Homo sapiens: one gene and its partners. The protein of the gene in region 1 purifies or fractionates together with the protein of each later gene. This does not show direct contact. Each region holds a gene or a part of one and is shown on either strand. Other genes may lie near its edges.

Evidence for each region.
Region 2: the proteins of DEF6 (region 1) and ARHGAP42 purify together in Homo sapiens (affinity purification with mass spectrometry; 3 studies listed by BioGRID and IntAct, with this or other methods). This does not show direct contact.
Region 3: the proteins of DEF6 (region 1) and SMARCA1 purify together in Homo sapiens (affinity purification with mass spectrometry; 3 studies listed by BioGRID and IntAct, with this or other methods). This does not show direct contact.
Region 4: the proteins of DEF6 (region 1) and C1orf52 purify together in Homo sapiens (affinity purification with mass spectrometry; 3 studies listed by BioGRID and IntAct, with this or other methods). This does not show direct contact.

Annotation. Positions count from the first base shown.
Region 1 is NC_000006.12:35,296,579-35,300,617, forward strand, and holds the start of DEF6 (differentially expressed in FDCP 6 homolog), read left to right. Parts: upstream 1-1,239; 5' UTR 1,240-1,278; coding exon 1,279-1,374; intron 1,375-4,039.
Region 2 is NC_000011.10:100,973,788-100,978,110, forward strand, and holds part of ARHGAP42 (rho GTPase-activating protein 42), read left to right. Parts: intron 1-671; coding exon 672-816; intron 817-2,269; coding exon 2,270-2,650; intron 2,651-3,027; coding exon 3,028-3,184; intron 3,185-4,323. UniProt on the Homo sapiens protein: May influence blood pressure by functioning as a GTPase-activating protein for RHOA in vascular smooth muscle.
Region 3 is NC_000023.11:129,519,868-129,524,825, forward strand, and holds the start of SMARCA1 (SWI/SNF-related matrix-associated actin-dependent regulator of chromatin subfamily A member 1), read right to left. Parts: upstream 3,624-4,958; 5' UTR 3,504-3,623; coding exon 3,330-3,503; intron 1-3,329.
Region 4 is NC_000001.11:85,252,340-85,256,662, forward strand, and holds part of C1orf52 (UPF0690 protein C1orf52), read right to left. Parts: intron 364-4,323; coding exon 290-363; 3' UTR 1-289.

The sequences.
Region 1 (4,039 bases):
CTCCAGGGGGAAGAAGGGATACAGGGGAAGGCACTTGATGGGAAGAAGCTCTGGGTTTGACTCTGCCTACACAGGAACATTGCAGGGATTGGTGGTGCCTCTTTTCCTCTCTCTGCTGTGATGGATATGCCCCAACCCCTTCCTGCCTCCTAGGATTGGAACCCCCTCCTCTGATCCAGGCATCCTCTCCCAGGATGCCTAGAAAGCTCCCATTTACTCTTGCCACCAGCTCCTTGGGAAGAGAGGGGCGGGGGCGTGCTTCCAGGCAGGAGGTATTCCCAGCACCTTACTTGGAGGGATTTTTATTTGGCTTAGGGGGTAGGGGGAGGTGTCTTAGAATTGGCCTGAGCAGATGTCTTCAACATCTGTGACCACCATTCCTGGTGTGGGCGTGTCCCAGTCCTTTTGGACACTGGATCTGAAGAAAGGAAGCACTGACATGGAGGGCCCTGAATCCCAAGCCTGCTGCTGCTGGGACCCTTAAAGTTGAGGTGCACCACAAGGCTCACCCCCATGTGTTTCAGGAAGTTTCCAGTGTCTTCAGGGCTACTGGGGCTAGAGTGGGCAGTGCTCTGAGTACCGTTTAGAGCCAGTGCTGAGGGGATAGGGAGCCAGCAAGTCAAGTGCCACATCCTGACCTGGAGAGGTGCCCTGGCCCATTTCCTTCTCCAGCTTTGTGATGTTGCCTTTGTTTCCTTCCACTTGGATGGAGTCCCACCACCATGGTAATGTTAAGTAGCACCAAAAGCTCTACCCAGAGCCTACTATGTGCTTTACGTCCATTCTCAGACATTCTTACAACACGGAGGCATTTTTCCTGCTTTACAAATGAGGAAACTGCTCAAGGAGGTTAAGTAACTTACCCAAGGCCTCCTATGTTGAACTAGGACTGGACCTTTACTCTGTCTGACCCCAATATCAGGATGAGCTTGCTTTTTCCCTCAGCAAGCTGCGTCTGGGAGCCCTGGAAGGCTCCAGAAGCCTCCGGGTCTGAGGAGGCTTCTAAAAGGGCCTCACATGCCCCGGGAGCCACGTGGATACAGAACGAGGGTTCCCGCTCTCGGAGAGTTGGTCCCCAGTTCCCATGCAGGGAGTGGAGCCTCTGAGCACTGCCAGAACAACAGGCAGGGTTCTCGACAGCACAGAGCCTCACGCAATGTGCAGGCAGGTGGTGCTCTCGCTCCACCACGGCACCTCTGCGGTCTCTGCAGCCGTTTGCATTTCCTGAAACCGGATCTTAGTGTCAGAGCCGCCCCCAGCCGGGCGGGCGCCTCAGCCATGGCCCTGCGCAAGGAACTGCTCAAGTCCATCTGGTACGCCTTTACCGCGCTGGACGTGGAGAAGAGTGGCAAAGTCTCCAAGTCCCAGCTCAAGGTGAGGGGCACCCGGGACCCGGGGGAGGACGGCAGATGCACCACACCAGCCCCTGCCGCCTGGGAGCCAGGTGTGGACACTGTGCCACTCCAGGGGCACCCAGCCATCCAGCGTCCCGGGCCTGGGGTCGGGGGGCTGGTCCTGGGTAACTGGGCCAACGTAGCCTGGTAGATGCCGCTGCCCACCCTCCAGAGACCTAGTGAAGTGTGTGCAGAAACCTTGCGCAGAACTGGGCCCCACAACTGGAGGCCAGGAGGTTCTGAGGGCCATTATGGGGTTCTGAGGGCCAGGAGCCAGGCCACATCCCAGACTCTGTGTGATGAGCACACACACCTCCACAGAGTCATGCTTGGGCACGCAGTGTGCTCTTTCTTGCTGCTTCCTCCTGACTTTCAAGAGAAACAGTTAGCCAGTGCTTGGCAGTCATTTCCTCTGGAGCTGAGAGAGGCATAAAGGGGCCGCCCCCAGTCCCAAACCTGTCTGGCCTGTCTAACCCTGCCCGCCAGGTGGGACAGAGCTGCGGAGTGGGTGAGGACTGAGGACCCTATTATACTGCTACGCAGCTCACCCCCCTATCCACCACACATATCAGGTTGGGAAACTTACCTTAGGCCTTGAGACCTCAGGTAGGGAAGGGGGAGAATCTAAGCCCAGGAAAATCCCAATCAATGATTGTCCTGAAGTCAATCATCTGGCCTAGACAATTTCTGGGAGGCCAAGGAGTTTTTCTCTCTCTTCCTCTAGTCCTCCAGTAGTGCTGCCTTCCCTACCCTAGTTAGTGGGGAGGAAGCAAGGCCCTCAGCCACTAGAATCAGCGAACACTGGGGGAAAGGAGCAAGGTAGGCCTCAGCTCTCTAGGACCTGCCATAGGGGTGCCTTCGTTCACTCTGCAAGTACTTGAGTGCCCCTCGTGAGGCTCTGTGCCTGGCATGTGGCTAGGCACTAAACTGGTGTCTCCCTGCCCCATCCTCCAAAGGAGACGTGTGGTCTCAAGGAAACCTCCATTCTTAATGACCGAGGTAGAGGGTGCTGGATACCTGAGAGATGAATGGGACAGAACAGTTATTGTGCCCCACCACCGTTCCAACCCCCTACTTTACTGAACTTGGATGTGAGGAACTTGAATATCCCAAACTGGTCCTATGTTAAATTCCTTACCTGGATTTGTGAGCATCTAATAGATGATTTCACTCCCCCAGGAAGGAGAGCCCACTACTATCTTTTGTCACCTAGGGAGAACCTCCTAACAGGCAGATTCTTCCTTACATCCTATTTAAATCTCTTGTATTGCAGATCATGTCATTTGGTTGGGTCCTCAGTATAAATGGAAAAAAGTCGATCATCCAAAATCCATTTCTGCAAACTCTGTGTCCCACCCCTACCTCCCACCCTGTCCCTTTAATATCTTGCCAGACAATACCAGCCCCCGTGGCTTTTTGCTTCCAGGGTAACATTTTCCACTTCTGTATTACCTGTGGCCACTGAGACCTCTCCAGGCTCTCTCTGCCCTTCACATGGAAAGTACAGCCTTTAAGTGGCTCCCCTTTTCCTGGTGCCATCAGCCAGTAAAGCCTCCTAGCTTGAGCCTCTGTCTTGCCCTCTAAAAGGGCCACTACCCACTCCCTCATCCCCACAGGTTGCGTATTTCTAGGGAAATACTCCATGGAGAGCTTGCATGCTTGAACTGTCCACTGTCTGTACCTCATCACAGCTCATATTGAACCTACTGCCAGCAACATCTCTGGTCACACAGGATCAATTATAGAGTTCCCTCCTACTTGACAGAAAACTTGTCAACTCTGGAAACCTGGGCTAACAGTGGGAGTCTCAGGGGCCAAGTGGGGGTGGGGCGGAAATGGCGGGGCTCCTTTCAAGCCCATAATAGTGAATATTGGAAGAGGAGGAAGTAGTGATAGTGTTGGGGGGCGGGGATTCCAGCAAAGCAAAGGAGTAATAGAGAAGTGGTCAAAAGGCAAAGGAGGAAGCAGACGAGAGAGTTATACAAGCAGGGCCCACCTCTCCCCAGAAAAGACTTGGGGATGAGGGAAAAGACCTTGGAGTCAATCTGGTTTTTTGTTGTTGTTTTAGAGATGAGATCTTGTTCTATCACTCATGCTGGAGTGCAGTGGTGCAGTCATAGCTCACGACAGCCTCAAACTCCTGGGTTCAAGCGATCTTCCTACTTCAGCCTCCTGAGTAGCTGGGACTACAGGCACATGCCACCACGCCTGGCTAATTTTTTTATTTTTTATTTTTTAGAGCCTGAGTCTCATTATGTTGCCCCGGCTGGTTTCAGACTTCTGGCCTCAAGTGATCCTCTGGCTTCTGCCTCCTGAGTAGCTGGAATTATAGTCTTGAGCCACCTCACTGGGCTGGTTACTAAAACCATCCCTAGCGTTAGGGTCCTGGGTTGGAACCTGGCAAGAGACCTGCACTAGCCCAGGGCAAGATGTGTCGGTGCGTGACATTTGCCACTTCTCCCCTAATGTGTTGGTAGACGGGCTCCCAGTGGCTGTCCTGGGCAAACCCACGATGAGGCCAGAGGGTAGGAGGAAGAACAGCACGTCCTCTGAGAAAAGCCCAAGGAGTAGGGTTGTTTCTCCTGGAAAAGAGAAGGCTTGAGGGAAAAACCAGATACTTCTTTCTCTCTTTGAATTCTTGTAGA
Region 2 (4,323 bases), on another chromosome or scaffold:
TGGGAAATTTTGAAAGCTGAATTAGTTGGAGTATTAAGCAAATTGAACCATTTAAGGTCTAACAATTTGTAATCCTTTTATCTCTGATCTGGTCCTTGTGAGAGAATGATTAAGGCCTTCTCCTCCCCTGGGTCCCTTCCCAGCACCCACAGAAGCATGCCCTTAGTGTCTATCTAAGGGCACAAGCTCTCTCACAATGCAAGAGCACATGGCTGTGTCCTGTAGCTCTGCACATACCTTAACCTGCAGCTAGCCACACTCCTTGGCAGCTCAGAGCCAACAGCATGGCAGCATCTTCTCCTGAGAAGCAAGGAGCCATTCAGTGGGAGAAATGATATAGAGTGAGCCTCAGCTCTTCTCAGGTTATGTTTTTTCAGAGTATGAAGGTGGAAAGAGAGTATTACAATAAAAACCATCAATATGTCTTGTTCATATTTGGAAGGTTTCTTAAAGTTATTGAAAGATCTTCTAGATTTTACTTTTGGGAAATGGGAGAGAATAAAAAAGAAAACCCCGTGAAAGAATACTCCAGATAAATGGAAAAGTTACAATTGCTCTAGGATACTTATATTTTGCAGCTGATTAAGTAGCATATGGTTCAAAGCTTATTTTATAATGAAAGTGGCAATATCACCCTTTTATTGACCTTGGTCCATTTTTCTTATACGTAGATTTTTCATACTGCTCCAGACCCAAGCATTCCTCTTCCTCAGCCTCAGTCTCGATCTGGATCCCGAAGGACACGAGCAATCTGCCTCTCTACAGGGTCTAGGAAGCCCAGAGGGAGGTATACTCCATGCCTGGCCGAACCTGATAGTAAGTGCACCCGGCCTTAGGGAGATGCTTTCTTCATTCTTTGGTTCAGATGTATTTCACTGTATTGGTAATTAGGTAGAAATAGAAGATGTTCTCACTGATGCTCTTTCCCCAACACCTCCTCTTTTATCATTTGTATATTCTCTGTCAATAGTTGTACAGTTGCTTGGGTAAGCAAATTCATTATTGATACAAAAAGGAAAAAAAGAAAAAAGGGCTCAAGGCCCTTTTTTCTGCAACTGTGATTAAGTACATTGGGTGCTCCTTTGTAGCAGGTTCTGTCCTATTGTCAAAGTGGTAAAGAAGAAAGCAAGACAAAGTCTGACTGAAGCTGTCATTTTCTTCCTTCCTTTCACATTATGTTCTTAAAGCATTATCTCTTGGGTATCAGTGTCTGAAAGAGAAAAGATAAAAAGAAACAACACACATTATCATCAACTTACAATTCTGAGCCAAGCCCTAAGGTGATGTGGGTGGCATCTTGACACCATGGCACACATTAAACTGTGGCTGTTCTCATTTTATTTTATACCCCCCACCCCAATTTTTTGCTCACAGTCAATATTTAATAGAAAATAGTCAATTATATATTTTAAAATAACTAAAAGAATGTAATTGGATTGTTTGTAACTCAAAGGACAACTGCCTGAGGAGACGGATACTCCATTACCATGATGTGCTTATTTCAAGTTGCACACCTGTATCAAAATATCCTATGTTCTCCACAAATATGCATACCTATTATGTACCCAGAAAAATTTAAAAAAATAGTTTACTAATTTTTAATTTAGATATATGTGAATGCATTATTATGCTTTATCTGATTTTTCTTATAACTTGCTTTTAGGAACATTAGGAAATAAAACCAGCAAAATAGCCAGTTTCTTACATTTCTATATTCTTAGCAGGAAAGGAAAAAAGCCTTTGAAAATTGAGGTACTTGTAATTTACTACTGACATTTAATGGTGCCTTTGAATGAAAGAAGGCTGAGTACTTTGTAACTTGGAATCAATCACCTATGATCAGAAAAGTAAAAGAAAGCAGAAATATGTTTTTACTATACCCCCTTTCATTGATTCCTTGTAATATCATGAAGGAATCTTATTTCTCTTACTTCTGAATCCTGTTTCATAAACAAATTTTGTGGGAATTCAAGTCAACCCACTTATGCTTCAAGAAGTAAAGTTATTATCTAAAGGCAGGTAGTTCATAGGTACATACATAAACTTCCTAAAATAGCATTGAAAAATACGTTTGGCAAGTTCAAATGCATATTTTAAAGCCTTTCTCCAGTACTGAGGACAGTTCTCCGTACTAGGTAGGGGCCTACCACTTTAATGGGGTCAGGTGGCCGCAGAACACATGGTAAGTTGGAGAACAGAAGGGTTTTGGTGATGCTGTTATCAATAGATAGTTACAGTTGCTTTCATCTCTCTCCCTCCTACTCCTTAGGTGACTCCTATAGCAGCAGCCCAGACAGCACACCTATGGGGAGCATTGAGTCACTCTCTTCTCATTCCTCTGAACAAAATAGCACTACAAAGTCAGCTTCCTGCCAGCCCAGGGAGAAATCTGGAGGGATTCCTTGGATTGCAACCCCATCATCTTCCAATGGACAGAAAAGCCTTGGTCTGTGGACAACTAGTCCTGAATCAAGTTCCAGAGAAGATGCAACCAAGACAGATGCAGAATCAGACTGCCAGAGTGTTGCTTCAGTCACTAGCCCAGGAGACGTTTCCCCACCCATAGACCTAGTCAAGAAAGAGCCTTATGGGCTTTCAGGACTGAAAAGAGCTTCTGCTTCTTCTCTCAGATCCATCTCTGCAGCTGAAGGTAAGGCAGAGTGGAACTTGTGCAAGATGTCATTGTCTCAGTGTCACTTGTGCTGGATTATTCAGCATGGTTAAGCAGGGATAAAGTTAATGGTGGAGAAACTAATGATGCTTATCTACTTTTTTCCTGTGCTTGGATTTTACAACCTAGGCACTGTGACATTTTTCCTGAATCTTTCCATGTCTGTGAAGTGATGTCTTTGTAATTATTGTAGATTTTGATCTCCCCAAGTGATGGGTTGCTGTACTCAAAGAACATTCTGTACCTTCCCATTTGGGCTCAGAGAAAAATGCTTCCTTTTGTTATGCACATGTACGTGTTATTGCTATTATGTTGTCTAATAGCACCTTGCCTATTTTCTTGGGCTTTCTTTTTAGGAAACAAGAGCTACAGTGGATCTATTCAAAGCTTAACTTCTGTAGGTTCCAAGGAGACACCCAAAGCTTCACCAAACCCAGACCTGCCTCCGAAAATGTGCAGGAGATTAAGACTAGACACTGCCTCAAGCAATGGCTATCAGCGGCCTGGCTCAGTGTAAGTGAGCGTTTGTATATTTGCTGTGTCTCCCAGGGATACAGAGAGGAGTTGAGTGTTTCAGAAGAACTCTTGGGAATCCCACAAGTTGAATACATTGGGAATACTTTATCTGTAGAGTGGGTACAGTCCACTTCTGTAAGACTCTATTCTTTTCTATGAGTGATGTGGAAGTCTTCGGATATGGACAGAATCTCTCTCACAGGGCAGCACTTCAAGCACTTTCCTTTGAAGCAGAGCTATGACTTAATTTGAGGAAATGAAAACTGATGTATAATACAGTAGTTATAAGCTTTGGAACTAAAAGTGTTCCCATTAAAAGCTAAACATCCATCTCTCCGCTGAAGAGACTGCCACGCATTGACTATAAGCCAGGTCCCTGCTCTCCTCACTGTTTTAAAGCAGCTTCTTTCTCACTTCCATCCTACGCCCGCATACCTGAGTCCTCACTGATTTAAACAAGCTAGTAGAGAATGAGGAATATGCAAGGCAAAAGTGGGTACTTCTCATCAAAGGAAATGATGCAGAACTGTAAAGGCTGGTAGGAGAAGGGTACATAGACATGAGTAGAAAGTGGGTGAAGAAGAACAATGGAAACCTGGCTAAACAAGTAAGCAAAAAAGAGAGATAAAAAGTTTCTCTCCCTTTCATTTTGTTTTCCTGACATTTGCTGAGAATTTCCTAATGCTCTCTGAGCCATTACTGGATGTCTTTACATGAGTTATCTCTTTTAAGGTCTGCAGTGTCCTTTGGAAATGGGTAGTATAAACCACATTTTAGAGATGACGAGAACTGATGCTTTTCTACCGTTTCCAACCTAGGGTTCTCTGACTACAATTCTGTGCTCCTTCTGTTTTACCTTCTCCATTTTTAATATGATGGCATTCTTCCTGACATTTTAATTATTCATTAAAAGTCCAGTAAGACATTTTACTAAGCCTGTTTCTATAGGAACTGTGTCATAAATTCATTAGTTCATCCTTTTCTCTGACAGGAACCTTTTGGTTGCAGAGCATGTTCAATGTACCTTATCTCTTTTGGTTAGAAATCCAGTTACAGTGGTATAGGCAAATATATTTGTCAGTGTGTCTACTCCCCACTGTGTGTAGTTCTGCCCATTAAGGGAAAGAAATGTTAAG
Region 3 (4,958 bases), on another chromosome or scaffold:
ATCAAAACAATGAAAATTACTTTGCCTCATACGCACAAATATATATAATAATGTGGGAAGTACACTTACAGAAAATTAAAGCTTTAATCCTAGAAAAACATTTTACCCATTACTTTTTTGCTTACCTTGCGGTAGACTACCATCAAAATCTAATTATATGCTAATTAAAATCCTAATCTTGAGCAGGGCTATTAAAAGCTGTGGGTAATTACTTAATTGGCACTATCTTCCACAACAAATTTTAAAATACCTACCTTCTAAACCTTCTCTCGTGTGTGTGTGTGTGTGTGTGTGTGTGTGTGTGTATTCTCAAAACTACATTTTTTTCATACAAGAAAAGATGAAAAGTGACTAAGAGACTCTAATGAATTCCTTTGGATTTTGTTATCTGAGTCTAGGTGCCATGAGAATGCAGCACAAGGTCAACAAAATGGCTTGTTTTAAAGACCATGACCTTTTTCTTGACGTTTTCATGTCTACAGTGTTGGGTAATCCAACCGTCACTTAAACCAACTAAATTCAACAACCAGAAAGTAAGCAAAAACACCTTTGAGTAGGTAAATGTCACAGGTCAATTCACTAATTCTCATCTACTGTATTCATCATGAAAGCGCTCTCATTCAGAAACCTATTTTCTTTTTATTTGGTAGACAATTCCACCAAGTTTGAAAATCTGGCTTCCCATGTCACCGAGAATACAAGCAACAGTAAATGACATGGAAAGATCACTAGATGAAGGCACTCTACAAGAAGACACGGCAGAAACCAAGGACGAAAATGTCTTCCACTGCAGTAGCATCACTGATTCTTGGTGTGCACGTGTCATTATTTCCCTCTCCCTGTTTTATCACTGACACTTTTGTATTTTACAGTGGTTTTCAAATGAGTTTATGGTTTTGTTACACCTATAATCTTTATCATAAACTAACATATTATTTCTGGTGAAACTAGAGGTGTTTAAAAAGTGATCGCTAACAGCCTGGCAATTAAGGAAGAAGACAGAAAATTTTTATTTATTTATTTATTTTGAGACGGAGTCTCACTCTGTTGCTCAGGTTGGAGTGCAGTGGTGGGATCTCGGCTCACTGCAACCTGAGCCTTCCGGGTTCAAGCGATTCTCCTGCCTCAGCCTCCCAAGTAGCTGGGATTACAGGTGCCTGCCACCACACTTGGCTAATTTTTTTTTTTTGGTATTTTTAGTAGAGACGGGGTTTCACCATATTGGCCAGGCTGGTTTCGAACTCCTGACCTCAAGTGATCTACCCGCCTCGGCCTCCCAAAGTGCTAGGATTACAGGCGCGAGCCACCGCGCCCGGCTGGAAAAATTATTTTTAAAAATCAACACAACACTGCAAGAGTCTGGTAGGTGGTTACTTAATTGAGAGGGAACAACCTGCGGGATTTCAGGTGCCTTTGTGTCACTGTCAAAGTACACTAACTGATGGCCATGAAGAAGAGGTTAATCTGCACTTTTAGTATGCAATTTAAAGTGTCAAGGTAGTATGTAATGTATTTCATTTTTTAAGGAAAAATTAAAAATAAAAATGGATATCCAGGAAGTTCCTGACATACAGCACCTCATTTCCCTGTCCTGGGTGGACAAATGAAGTACTGGTAGGGCAATTTCTAATGAGGCAAGAGTTGACAAATATGTAGGCATCAACTCAGTGTTTATATTATATAGCTTTTTTATTGGTCTCCCGTTTTTTCACAATACAAAATTTTATACAAAATTCAAAAATTTATACAATCTGGAAATTCGACAACCTCTCCTGCCATACAAAAGGCAGTTTGGCACTCACATTTGCCCAGTCCAGGGAATAAAAGGCACACAGACATTTCCGAATTTCACAACATTTGATTTATATTGATGCTTGGTATTACACCCACTTTTAACCAACAATATTGTCTTACTAATCCAAGTACCGCGTAGATCTTACAATGTGTATGTTTTCTACGGTTTTCATTTAGCACTACAATTGTCCTTCTGTTTAGTCAACCTTGTAATAGTAAAATATGTCACAGAAGCAACTGCTAAATTTAAAATTACTCTTCTCATTTAAGGCGAAAGGTGTTCATTTTCCTCAAAAGCTTTTCATTTGGTCGTATAGTATCATATAATGATTCAGACAAAGCCACTTGAGATCTCTAAAGCATAATTACCCACCTTTTTAAAATTGCGATATGACTACTCGTAAATAGGAAAAAATCCACACATAAACCATTAGTTATGCAATTTTATCATACATCAAAAATGCTTATGCCCCATCCTATTTTTATGTCAATTTTTCAACGTTTTATAGTTTTATTTGCATGTCTCGGGCCACACGAAATGTGCCTTATGGAGATAATACATATTTTCTGGATTGGCTTTAATATGTGTCAGAGCAGTTCCCTTACGTTAGAAGCAGCTCATCTTGGCGACGCTGAGTTTTTTAAAAATTAAAGGAGAAAAAAAAAAAAAACCTGTGTGTGTCCAGGAGCCAGCAGCGCCCACTAGGAGAGGGAGGCGGAAGCCTGGAAAGCTTGGGGCCGGATTGAGGGACCATTGGGGTGGCCCTGGAGTGAAACCCTATACCGTCGGGGGCGGGGCAGAAGAGGGTGAGGGTGCAGATGTTGGAAATTTTCCTAAGCCAGCGTCCACGGTTCCTCAGTTTGGGGGGGCGGGGGGGTACGACGCAGAGAGCTCCTTTCCTCGGGGTGACACCCCCACCTCGGCAGGCGGGGTTCAAACGAACAAGGGATGGTTTTTTTCCTGCCATCCAAAAGACCGACATTGCCAATGAAAGAAAGAAATGTCTTCCCTGTCACCCTCCACCCAGCAACCACCAGCACCTTGAAATTCAAATTACAAAAAAAGCCCCAGCAAAACCCCTTTAGCGCGAGTGTGGGATTGAAGGGCCCAGATTTCCCAGGCAGAGGCCGACGGGAAGGCGGGGGGAGAGGGAGCGAGCGAGAGGAGAGGGAGAGGCGGAGGCTTTTTCCTGCACAGCCCCATCCCCCACCCCGTTACCCGAGTTCCGGGAAGGTGGAGGGGGTCGGGGGCTGTCGAGGGGCTCCCGAGCCCCCAGGCCCCGGGAGAGCGGGCACCCCTCCACCCCGCGCCGCTCCCGCCCGCGCCCAGCCCCGCCCCCGTCCTCCAGGCGGCGAGAAGGAAAGGGGGAGGGGAGCGAACGCCAGGCGGTTCCGCCGCCGACCCCCGCACCCGCCGCCCCTAGCCCCGCAAAGCTCCGCGGGTACCTGTCGGCGCCGAAAGGTCAGGGTTTGGGCCCCTCAGAGGGGCCAGGCACAGGATTTGTCCACCACACACACACCCCCTTCCTATTTACCTCCTTCTTCTTCTCGCCCTTCTCCGTGGCCGCGGTGGCTTCGGTGGCCGCGGCGGCCGCTCCCTCCTCCTGAGAGGTGGACGGCCCGGGCTGCTCGTCCTCTATGACCACGATAGTGGCGGTCGCATCCGCGGCTGCCACGGTGGCTGCCACTGCGGCAGTGTCCTGCTCCATGCCGTGGGAGCGGGAACGAGTAGGGGGACAAGGCAGGGGACGAGGGCTCCTGGGCGGCGGCAGTGGCTGCACTGGAAAGAGCTAGATGGAGCAGGGGTGGGGAATCACTCCGCTTCCAACCCCTTCGCTCAGGCCCCCCCTTCTTTAAATAACCCTCAACCCTGCCCCACTTCCGTCCACCCACCCTACGTCATGGCCTCCCCCCGTCACTCTCCCCCCTTCCTCCACCCCCCCCCCCTCAACGATCGCGAGACTCCCCTTCCCCACCCAGAGCCCGGGCCGGCCCCGCACGACCAACTGTTGCCTGAGTGTGGGGCGCGGACAGGGGTGGAGGCGGGAACCCACAACTCGCGGCCCCCTGAAAATCTCCTTTCCCACACGCCCCCAACAGTGAGCCTGAGCTCCCCTCGCAGATGCGTGCAGAACGAATCCTCTTTCCCTTAAATCTGCTCTTTGTACCTCGGGGCGCTCTCCCCTTCTTGCACAAAGAACTTTTCCTCTGCTCCTAACTGTACTGTAGAAGGTCTTTTTCACCATTTGCAAAGCGCGGAACCCCTCTGGGACTGCCCTTTCCCGGATCCCTAAAGAGGTAGGATTAGCGGTGCTGTTTCCACCTTCCTAAATTCTGCACAAAGAGAAGCACTCCTTGAATCTCTTGATTGCAGCTGCAAACACATTCACTTACAAGGCAAAGTCTGACTCTCAAGTTTTACGTATATTTGCTCTATTTTCACCTCTGGTACCTCTCAGGTAGCCAATGTGCAGGAACACTTCTCTTACCTTCACCACTGCATTTTTAAATTCCTAGGGGACAAGGTTACCCACCGAACCTGGGGCAACATGTGGTAGGCACTCAATATTAGCAATTGAAATGAATTACTGTGATTTTTTGGCACAGGTTCTATTTGCACCTCCATTATTATTTGGTAATAATACAACACATAATATGAATGATCATGGATATAAAATCATTTCGTGATACAGAATCAATCAGTGTCCATCAGCAGGTGAATGGTTAAGGAAAATGTGGTCTGTATACACAATGGAATACTATGTAGCCATAAAAAAGAATGAAATGTCATTTGCAGCAACATAAATGAAACTGATGTTTATTATGTTGCACAAAATAAGCCAGGCACAGAAAGACAAATAACACATGTTCTCACTCATATGTGGGAGCTAAAAAGTTGATCTCATGGAGGTAGAGAGTAGAATGATAGGTACCAGAAGTCTGGGAAGGGTGTGTGGGGTTGAGGCGGATCAATGAAGAGAGGTCAGTTAATGAGTACAAATATACAGTTAGATGGAAGGAATAAGTTATAATGTTCAAAGTAGAGTAGGGTGACTCTACTGAACAAACAATGCAATGTATATTTCGAAATAGCTAGAAGAGAGGACATGAAATGTTCCCAACACATAGAAATGATAAATACTTGAGGCAATGGACACCCTAAA
Region 4 (4,323 bases), on another chromosome or scaffold:
GTCAACATGTGACAAAACTCTCAAAGCATGTCACCAATTCTGTGAGAGCAAGAATGCATCCAAGTGTTATCAATTTCACAATCACAAGTCACCAGTTGAGTTTTAAATACATACATGTTTTAAATAAAAAAAGAATTCTATAGTGGAAAGTTCTTGAGGCAATACTTATTAGTTCATTAACGTATGCATTTTCATGGAGATGTGGCATAATAACCCACAATATCAACTTAATCTGTCCAAAGAAACATTTCAACAAGTTTAGCAGTACAGAAATTCTGGTCATTTGTTTCTACTTTTTCTTCTTTGCTGGTTCTCCTGGCTCTACTTTGCGCTTTTTAGAAGTATGCTCATCTTTTTCATCATCTTTAAATAGAAAAGGAAGAGTTTCAATCAGTAATTTTAAAAAACCCAACATGTTAAGCATTAAAATTTCACTGGCTTTATACCAAAATTATTACCCTCATCAATTAATGTTTCTCTCAGAGTTTCCCAATAAAAAACAAGAATTAACTTTTAGAGCTCTGATTTTTAAATGCAAGTGAAAGTGAGCAATTTTTTTTTTCAATTGCAGCCATACAAAATTCACAAAGTAACTCTTTAGGTGCTATACTAAGGTAGCTTAAAATAAGTGACTTTACTTCCCCCAAATCAGACTTTTGAAAAAGGCTCCCAAATACTCAGCAAGCTTGTCCAACCTGCCTTATTTGTTGTTGTTGTTCTGTTTTGTTTTAGGCTTTTAGCAGCCTGAAGCCATGGTTTTTAGTTTCTGTCTCTAGTGATAAGCAGAAAAGAAGGATGATGAAGGGGCTTTATTGGCCCAACCAATAACAGAAACTAAGAACTCATGACTGTATTCTCTCCCTTGGACACCACTGCATGATAGTATTTACATTGTATATATTAAAATACAATCAATGCTTTGTAAGAATGGAGCATATTGTTTTCTTTTTACAAAAAATAGGTATCACTCTAACGATGACATTATTTAAGTGGCTATCAGCTGTCCTTTTCCTTTCAATCTGCTTTCTCTCCTCCAAAAACAACTTCTTCTGCCCCATCACCTTCTCCACCCACCCCAAATCCTTATTTTGAGGTTAAAAAGCACTCACAAGTAGGTTTCCCCAAACCTCTATTTGGAATTTTATTCTAGTAAGTTCTAATTCCCATCCCCGCCCTCCCCATCCCCACTCCCACGATGGCCAGAACATTTTAATGGCAACAGAAAAATACATATCTTCCTACTTCATATTATGGAGAATTTGGAGAGGGGAGGGAGGTTAGAGAAGAGCCTTACATTAAAACAATGTTCTTTACACCTTTCCAAAATGTTAATAGTATCTGTAGCCACAGAAAATTTCCAATTCATAAAAATGTTGTCAAACCTGGAAAAGTGAACTCTTTTATTGTATTTTAAAAAATCCAACTACATGGTTAAAAAAAAAATACAGGGTAGCACAGACTAGTTGCTAATTCCATCTCCCTAAGCAAATGTGTGGTATTAAGAACTCCATATAGACAGAGTAACATGGAAAAGATGTTATGATTTATAAAATACAAATTTATTTTGAGCACATTACTAATTAATTGTAGCTTTTGACTTTATTTTCTTGATCAACAGATACTCAAAAAGTTCAACAGGTTATCATGTGGAGATCTATAAAATATCTTGATATTGAAAGGAGCCTTCATTATTAAAAAATGTGAGGAACTACTGACATCAAATCATAAATTCCTTGAAGGAAATATTAAAATCTTAAGCCTTCAATTCCCTTCTGCTGACTGTACCATAATCAGAATATCTCATTTATTGATGCAGATAACAATCAATACCATTCATCTTCACTCCCCTTCAAGCACAGCACGGTGATGTTATTCATATGCTTCACAGAGCACTATGGATTTATGTAGGCAGTGGAATAAAATACAATTCAGATCAACTCACCCCAGGAATTTACAAATCAAAGTTTTAATCAGTAGTTCATCATGTTCATACAAAAACACTGGCTCCACAAACCAAATAACATGGTATACCACCAAAACAAGCCAAACGTTTTGCTTTTTTTTTTTTTTGAGATGGAGTCTTGCTCTGTTGCCCAGGATGGAGTGCAGTGGCACCATCTCAGCTCATTGTAATCTCCACCTCCCAGGTTCACGCCATTCTCCTGCCTCAGCCTCCCAAGCAGCTGGGACTACAGGTGCCTGCCATCACACCCAGCTAATTTTTTGTATTTTTAGTAGAGACGGGGTTTCACGGTGTTAACCAGGATGGTCTCTATCTCCTGACCTCGTGATCCACCCACCTCGGCCTCCCAAAGTGCTGGGATTACAGGCGTGAGCCACCGCACCCGGCACCTTTTGCTTTTTAACGAGTTAATTATCACTAAGCTCCTCTTTTGAGATTTTCAGTAGTGATAATATAAAAATGGAAAGTACTAAGTTTACTATAATATTCACTATGCATTAGCATACATTTAGATGATACTGAGATATTTTTGCTTTTAATTTGCCACTTATTACAAGTAAATTAACTGAATAACAAAACCACAAACTACTGAAGTTAAAAAGTAACTGGCTATCAGTGATTTGAGCAGAAGTGCTATGCCATCTAGTGTCATGACAAGGCATTGCTTTATAAACTAGAGTAGGAAAAAATCTGAGCAATGTTCATTTATCAATTTTACTGAGCTTTTTTACTCGGTCTCATATAGTATAGATGTACTGGTAAGGAAACAATTTTTTTATTATGGAACTCAAATCACTCAAGTAAGTTTAACTTATCAATAGACAAACTTTCTAAATTCTAAAAAGTGTAAACTAAAAATCACTATATTAATTATGCTTTTACAATTAATTATTATACATGTCAATAAAGCTACAACTAATAACTAAGCTTTGCTTACCTACATTTTACAACCACTAAAACCAGAAGTGGCAGGGTGCGGTGGCTCACACCTGTAATCCCAGCACTTTGGGAGGCTGAAGCGGGCGGATCACGAGGTCAGGAGATCGAGACCACCCTGGCCAACATGCTGAAACCCCATCTCCACTAAAAATACAAAAATTAGCTGGGCGTGGTGGCGTGTGCCTGTAGTCCCAGCTACTTGGCAGGCTGAGGCAGGAGAATCGCTTGAACCCGGGAGGCGGAGGTTGCAGTGAGCCGAGATCACACCACTGCACTCCAGCCTGGGCGACAGAGCGAGACTCCATCTCAAAAAAAAAAAAAAACCCGAAGGGCTGATAAGCAGCAAGACCCAATGATGAGTTCTGAACCTTTCCCAGCCCTTCCTCTAAAGTAACTGGAAGACGTTAACCGGCAATAAAAGGCCAAAGGGCAGAATGGGGAAGCAAAATAAAAAAGTCACTTGCTAATCTAAAATCTGGGTAAGAGTGTAGAGTTTCTGATATATATTTTATGAATGAAAAAGAAAGGCTAAAAAATTATGACATAATTGATTTTATAGGAATCTGAAAATCACTTCTAAAAAATGGGTCTGTTATTTGATTTTGCCTGTATTTGTTTTCCAATAAAGGACCATCATGTGATCAAAAAGACAGAAATTATCTATGTGAATAGCAGTGTTACCTGCCACATATTTGGAACTCCTTCTAACTTAACTCAAAAGCTAAGCTAGAAAAAGATAATTCTTTCTTGCTTGCTTGCCCTGGTGTATAATCCTGGTTTTTTCCATATAACTACAAAGATGTGAGAGCACCAGCCTATGGAAATCTAGTTTGAGTATCAACCCTAGTATCTTTACTGCCATTCGCCCTACAGAAGAATAGCTATATCTCACTGTTGAGAAATGGCTATTCATCAGGAGACCAAATCCCAGTTTAATAAGGCATAATTTCTATTTAAAGGTCTGGATTTGAATGCCTACTACTCTGTCTCTTCTTTAGCTGCGTGAATGAATTTGGGTAAAGTCCCTAATCTCAGATTGTTTTATCATCTGTAAAACAGTAATAATGAGTCATGTAGCACTTCTGTATCAGGTTGCTCGGAGTAATAAATTAGAAAACTGTGTGAAAGTGCCTATTTTAGAATTTGGCATTTTCTAGTTTGTGACCTTGGACAAGTTATGTAAGCTATCATTTCCACATTTCTCTATCTTATTTCACAAGGTGTTGTAATAAAGATTATTTAAGCAAATATATTTTTACTAATTATGAAAAGGAATGGCCGGGCACGGTGGCTCACGCCTGTAATCCCAGCACTTTGGGAGGCCAAGGCGGGCAGATCACGAGGTCAGGAGATCCAGACCATCCTGGCTAACACGGTGAAACCCCGTCTCTACTAAAAATACAAAAAATTAGCTGGGTGTG